2 linked regions of the Homo sapiens genome follow. The protein of the gene in region 2 purifies or fractionates together with the protein of the main gene of each other region. This does not show direct contact. Each region holds a gene or a part of one and is shown on either strand. Other genes may lie near its edges.

What was found. Proteins that work in one complex are often made in the same cells at the same time.
Region 1: the proteins of CEP89 (region 2) and TOP1MT purify together in Homo sapiens (affinity purification with mass spectrometry; one large-scale study listed by BioGRID and IntAct). This does not show direct contact.

The regions. Positions count from the first base shown.
Region 1 is NC_000008.11:143,317,881-143,321,380, reverse strand, and holds part of TOP1MT (DNA topoisomerase I, mitochondrial isoform 1 precursor), read left to right. Parts: coding exon 1-180; intron 181-3,294; coding exon 3,295-3,363; intron 3,364-3,500. UniProt on the Homo sapiens protein: Releases the supercoiling and torsional tension of DNA introduced during duplication of mitochondrial DNA by transiently cleaving and rejoining one strand of the DNA duplex.
Region 2 is NC_000019.10:32,930,459-32,933,958, forward strand, and holds part of CEP89 (centrosomal protein of 89 kDa), read right to left. Parts: intron 3,212-3,500; coding exon 2,993-3,211; intron 1,114-2,992; coding exon 971-1,113; intron 1-970. UniProt on the Homo sapiens protein: Required for ciliogenesis. Also plays a role in mitochondrial metabolism where it may modulate complex IV activity.

The DNA.
Region 1 (3,500 bases), on a different chromosome or scaffold from region 2:
CTGAGAGCAGGAAATGAGAAGGAGGACGGTGAGGCGGCCGACACCGTGGGCTGCTGTTCCCTCCGCGTGGAGCACGTCCAGCTGCACCCGGAGGCCGATGGCTGCCAACACGTGGTGGAATTTGACTTCCTGGGGAAGGACTGCATCCGCTACTACAACAGAGTGCCGGTGGAGAAGCCGGTGAGTGCCCTCGCGCCAGCTGCCCCCGCTATGTGACACGTATTTGCTCTGGATGTCTGGGGGCGTGCCGGAGCTGCCGTGGGGTCTGTGGCCCGTTTGCCACGTCCTGCCTGCTGGGTGAGGCCTGCTGTGCCGGGGCTGATCGGGGTAAAGGTGAAGGAGAGGCTGTGCACCATGGTAGACCCAAGGGTTCACAAGGGAGCTGGTCGGGGGCTGAAAAGGGCACGTGTGTCACGCCAGCTTCGTCTCCTGCCCCCCGGCCGGAGCATCTCCCAGGGCTGCTGGAGGAAGGCACTGCAGACCCAGTGGTTTAACAGACGTTTATTGTCGCTCAGCCCTGGGGGCCAGAGTCTGAGTCAAGGTGCTGGCAGAGCCACATCCCGCCCACACTCGGGGAGGATCCTCCTGCCTTCCCAGCATCTGGTGGGGCCACGGATCCTGCGTGTCCTTGGCCTGAGGCTGCCTCATCCCAGTCTCTGCCTCCGTTGTCACATGGCCATCTTCTCCCTGCATCTCTGCCTCTGCGTGTTCTCACAAGGACGCTGTCGTATTGGAGTTAGGGCCCAGCCCACTCTTTCTATGACTTCATCTTATCAGTCTCTAAAGACCCTGTTTTTAAATAAGGTCACGTTCTGGCCAGGCATGGTGGTGCACTCCTGTAATCTCAGTGCTTCGGGAGGCTGAGGTGGGAGGATCACTTGAGCCCAGGAGTTTGAGACCACTTGGGCAACATAATGAGACCCTGTCTCTGAAATAATAATTTAAAAAAACAGCCGGGCAAGGTGGCTCACGCCTGTAATCCCAGCACTTTGGGAGGCCAAGGCGGGTGGATCACGAGGTCAGGAGATCGAGACCATCCTGGCTAACATGGTGAAACCCCGTCTCTACTAAAAATACAAAAAAAATTAGCCGGGCATCGTGGCGAGCGCCTATAGTCCCAGCTACTTGAGAGGCTGAGGCAGGAGAATGGCGTGAACCCAGGAGGCGGAGCTTGCAGTGAGCCAAGATGGCACCACTGCACTCCTGCCTGGGTGACAAAATGAGACCCTGTCTTCTTTAAATTTTTTTTCTTTTTTCAAGACGGTGTCTCGCACTGTTGCTCAGGCTGGAGTACAGTGGTGAGATCTTGGCTGACTGCGACCTCCGCCTCCTGGGTTCAAGCGATTCTCCTGCCTCAGCCTCCCGAGTAGCTGGGATTACAGGTGCCTGCCACCAAGCTCAGCTGATTTTTGTATTCTTAGTAGAGACAGGGTTTCACCATGTTGGCCAGGCTGGTGTTGAACTCTTGACCTCGTGATCTACCTGCCTCAGCCTTCCAGAGTGCTGGCATTACAGGCATGAGCCACTGTGGCTGGCTGAGACCGTTCTAAAAAAAAAAAAAGGTTACATTCTGAGGTTCTGGTGAGGATATGAATTTCGGGAACACTTTTCACCCCAGTACACCTGGGAGGGGCTGCCCTCTTTCCTCTGCTGCAGGGACTAGTGGCTGCCCACCACCCCCACAGCCCCTAGCTCCACCAGCATAGATGCCCAGAGGGATGAGTGTGGTCGGGAAGGGCTGGGTAGATCTCTGGTCTCCAGACTGGCTTGAAGGAAGACTGGAACCTGGGGAGCATCCTCACCTTTGAATGGCTGTCCTGAAGAGTCACGGTGTCCCCTGTCTGGGTGGGCGCCACGTCGCAGTGACGTTGGACAGATCCACGCACGAACTCCCTGCACCTCAAAAGCACAAATGTGACTCAGGCTGGGCGCAAGGCCCACACCTGTAGTCCAGACACCTTGGGAGGGCTAGGTGGGAGGGTTGCTGGAGCCCAGGAGTTGGAGGCGGCAGTGAGCTATGATTGTGCCACTGCACTCCAGCCCAAGTGACAGAGCCAGACCTAGTCTCTAAAAATTAAAAAAAAAAATAAAAAAATTAATGTGACCCAACCGTGGGATGGAGTGGAGCCGTTGAAAAACAGAAATGGAAGTTTGGGGACAGGTGTTGAGGGCAGCAGAGAAACAGGAGTCCCTGGCAGGGCCCGGCCTCAGGCAGTCTGGTCGGGAAGTCATTCCTAAGGAATGAATTAATCGGAGGTAGGAGACAGAAGCCAACACACGAAAGGAAGAGGCAAGGAGGTGCTCACCACAGTGCCCCTGCCGTGGTGAAGCATCGGCTGTGGTGCAGGCCTGGATGGGGAGTTGCACTCTGTCCAGACAGAGGACTAGCCAGCCATTTGCAGTGCTGTCCAGGGGAGCACTCGGTAACGGAATGCATGTGATGTAGAGAAAAAGGCGGGACATAAAGCCTCGTCAAGATCAGCGGTGTGAAACCAAACGTGTAGAGGAAGATGAGGGAAGAAGCCAGAAGTCGGGAGCTGTGGGCTGGGGCTTCCCGCCATGTCCCGGTGCCTGTGGGTTTGTAGAATGGGGTTCATCAGCCATGGTGCCAGGCTGATGAGGGGGCCAGTTGGGGGTGCGGGGCCTCCTGCCCGTGTCTGGTGAGGGAGGGCTGCCATGCTGGTGCTGGAGAGAGCAACACAGAGGCCACAGCAACCTCCGCCCTGGAGCCGATGCCCAGCGCTCAGGGAGGGTGCCTGCCACTTGTAGGAGGACCAGCAGGTGAAACTGAGGGGAGGGCAGGCATGGGTGCAGGTGCAGGCTGGCGTTTCCTCGGAGCAGGGTTGGTCTTTCCAGAAGGGAATTAATGTCCTCTCCCCAAAGGGACTGGTGGAGGGAGGTTGGACACAGGAACCCCGAAGGCCCTGAGGTCCTGTGATGTCAGATGAGTGTCTCACATTACAAGGGTGTGGGCTCACCTGGTGGAAATCCGGCATTGATGGAAGAAGGAGCCGGGGACTCTGGGCCACCTGCCGCGGTCACCCAGGGGGTTTGCAGGGCAGGAGTCACGCCCACCTCCTGAGCACGCTGCCTGTGCGTGTGGTAGCGGTGACTGCCACACTGGAGGGTGGGGGCCGTGTCACGGGAGGATGCCGACAGGTGACGGTGATGCTGCTCGGGCCACCTTCCTCAGGGAAGCCTCCCGTGGGCTCCCAGGCTCTGCGTAGACGCCCTTCAGGTCCTCACTGGATTCGGGTTTTTTCTGTCCTCTGAAATTCCTTCTTTCTCCTTCAGGTGTACAAGAACTTACAGCTCTTTATGGAGAACAAGGACCCCCGGGACGACCTCTTCGACAGGCTGACCGTAAGCCGGCTCGTGTTTCCTCAGCAGTGGGCGGCGGCAGGACCCAGTGAGAGGGCGTGGGCGCTGAGTCTGGCCCAGGGTTTTGTCCTGACCCAACGGCTGACATGTCCTTTCCTTCCCGCGGGAGGCTGGGACGG
Region 2 (3,500 bases):
ATTTCAAAGCTGTTATTAAAAAAAAAAAGTGAAACGTAAGCCCTCCTTCAAAAAGCAACTCAGAAGCCCATGAGGCCTGAACTCCCAGGAGCCATGGGAGAACACCGTGTGCCTTCCCGCCTTCTACCCCAGCAAGAGCCCAGCCAGCGGTGCCTCCCTCTCCTGTGTCCACAGTGTCACTCACATCTTCACAGCCCCAAGTTCTGTAAGAGTAAGGACCTGAGCATCGGTTCATCTGGCACTCCTCCCGGCATCTCATGCAGTGACCTGCTCAGTGAGAGTGTGTGGAGTTGGACTCTGCAACTGTTCTTAGAACTGAAAACTCTGCTTTCCTTTCGAAGTTAATGCACTGACAACAGCTGCAACTTTCAGGAACGTGACTGAGAAGGGAGCAGCCGACATACACTTTCATTCTTTTACTTTTGTTATTTTTTTTTTAATTTTTGAGACAGGGTCTTGCTCTGTCACCCAGGCTGGAGTGTAGTGGCGCAATCTCAGCTCACCACACCCTTGACCTCCCATGCTCAAGAGATCCTCTTGCCTCAGCCTCCTGAGTAGCTGGGGCTACAGGCATGCGCCACCATGCTCAGCTAATTTTTTTAAATTTTTTATTTGTAGAGACTGTCTCGCCATGTCCCCCAGGATGGTCTCAAACTCCAGAGCTCAAGCAATTCTCCCGCCTCAGCCTCTGAAAGTGCTGGGATTATAGGCACAAGCCACCTCATCCGGCCTCTTTTACTTTGTACACTTCTGTATTGTCCCAATGTTTTACAGTCTTTATTGCCTTTATTACGGGGAAGAAGGAAGGGAAGGAGGCAAGAAACAGAATGGTCCTTAGAAACATTGTGCCTTGGACAGAGCTTTTCTTACATCAAATTATAATAAATAAGAACCTCTCAAGATTGGAAATCAATTCAACAGTAAAGGCTTAAAAATCTGAAAAGCTGATTTTCACAATCGGAAACGTTACCTCTTCCTTGGACAAATGCCTGAATTTTGTCTGATATCGACTGAGTTCTACATTCAAACGATGGACAGTCATTTTCAATCCATCATTTTCATCCACCAGTTCTTGAGCTTGTTTTCGCAGATAAAGTAATTCAGGTGCAGCAACTAGGGAAAAAAATTTAATATTATACTATAAGAAATAACATCCAATTTATCCAGATTTTATTAAATTGCAAATCGTTTGCTTTTCTCCCCTCTTTCACGCTCAGAGGCAATGAACTGTGTGTGCGTGTGTGTCTGTGTGTGTATGTGTGTCTGTGTGTGTGAATGAATAAAAGTTACAACGTTTTTTAACACTGAATAGTTAACGTTATATTGAAAGTTTGTGGAAGTTTTTGCATGTACAATAAAGTAAAATAAAAATTTCAAGTTGGAAAGGAATAGTCATTGTTTCAGATGACATAAGAATATGTGCTTTGAAAAATCATACAGAGGCCGGGTGCGGTGGCTCACGCCTGTAATCCCAGCACTTTGGGAGGCCGAGGCGGGTGGATCACGAGGTGAGGAGATCGAGACCATCCTGGCTAACACGGTGAAACCCCGTCTCTACTAAATATACAAAAAATTAGCCGGGCGTAATGGCGGGCGCCTATATTCCCAGCTACTTGGGAGGCTGAGGCAGGAGAATGGCGTGAACCCAGGGGGTGGAGCTCGCAGTGAGCCGAAATCACGCCACTGCACTCCAGCCTGGGCAACAGAGGGAGACTCCATCTCACAAAAAAAAAAAAAGAAAGAGAAAAATCATATAGAATACATGGAAAATGTATTAGAGCTAATAACCTTCCCACATAATAGCAATGTCCTATTAGAAAACAAAACAGAAAATAGATCCCACAAGGTAACAGCACAAATAATATATAGTATCTAAAAATAAATGTGCCTAAGATAAGAATTATGCAGGGTCTATGTGAAAAAAACTGACACCACCTTACTTAAAGCTATATTAGTTTTATATAAATAGAAAAAGGTATAGAGAAAATATTGGTGAATATTTATATAACCTTAGAGTTAAAAATGACTTAATACCAAGAGTGTAAGTCATAAAAGAAAAACATTTTATTGATTTAGCCCAATTATCAACAAACTAAGAAAATATTACACCTATGACAAAGGGATAAAATCTTTCATATGTAAGGAGTTCCTGCAAATCAATAAAAAGAAGTCAAGTGTCTCATTGTAAAGTGGGCAACTTGGCCATGATAGTGGCTCATATCTAAAATCCCAGTGCTTTAAGTGGCCAAGGAGGAAAAATCCTTGAGGCCAGGAGTTTGAGACCAGCCTGGGCAACACAATGAGGCCTCACTGCTATAAAAAAAATTAAAAAAAAAAAAAACTTAGCCAGGCATGATGGCGTTTGCCTTTAGTCCCAGCTACTCAGGAGGCTGAGGTGGAAGGATCACTTGAGCCCAGGAGTTCAAGGTTATAGTGAGCTCTGACCACCCCACTGTAGTCCAACCTAGGTGACAAGAGTGGGATGCTGTCTCTAAAAAATAAATAAATAAAGTGGGCAGCTTTATGAAAGAAAAAGAAAATGACTTGCAAAGATATGAAAAAATATTCAAGTTCAATAATAACAGAAATACAAATTAAAATACTATTTCTTTTTTTAACCTATAAAAGTAGCAAGGAAAATATAATCATTGGTAAGTCTACGGTAAAGGAGGAGCTTTTTTATGCTTCTCTTAGGGATAAAAACTGAAGTGAAATATATGTAAGCTAAGCATCAAGTTCCAAAAGAAGTATTGGAATCTCTGTTTTGTTTTTGTAAATTCAGCTTCTTTCCAACCTGAGGAATTTCTTTAGTGTAATAATGATATAGCAGATGAAATCAAATCTCAACAAACATAAGGATATTAACAAAAAAACCTGAAATATTACAACATAAATTACCAACACAAATATCACAACATAAAATATTAACTCTCAAAATAATTGAGTGAAGTCCTGCTCATTCCTCTAATAAAGGCACTCTGTCTGTCCCCACCTTCCTGTGACGACGCCTTCTCAGCCTCTTTGAGCTTTCTCTTCTCTTTTTCCATTCCCTTAAGTTTTAACTGTAGTTCTTTCATTGCTTGTTTCATTGTGTTTAGTTCAAGGGTAAGGCTTTGATTCATATTGTTTAGGTCCATATTTTCTTCTTTTAATGCCTCAAACTTTTCTCTGGTTATTTCTGTATATCTTTGACGTGCTCTACCAGTTATATCTGAAAGGGTTCAGGGGAAAATTTTACAATGTTAATTGATGTTGACAATGTTACATCAAAATCAACTGACTTTGTTCCAAAAACCACATCAGGCCTGGTGCCATGTTCTTTGGTCCCTGGGAAGGGAATGGCTTCTACAGGAAACAGTAAGTGGCCTGATGAAGTCACAGCGGGTGGCAGGAAGAGAGGTACTGAGGGGAGGCCAGAAAGGGAGGCCAGAGCTGCAGGAGGCCGTGCCTATTGTGATGTGGCATGGAAAGTTCATCTTGCAGGGCAGCAGGAGCCAGCA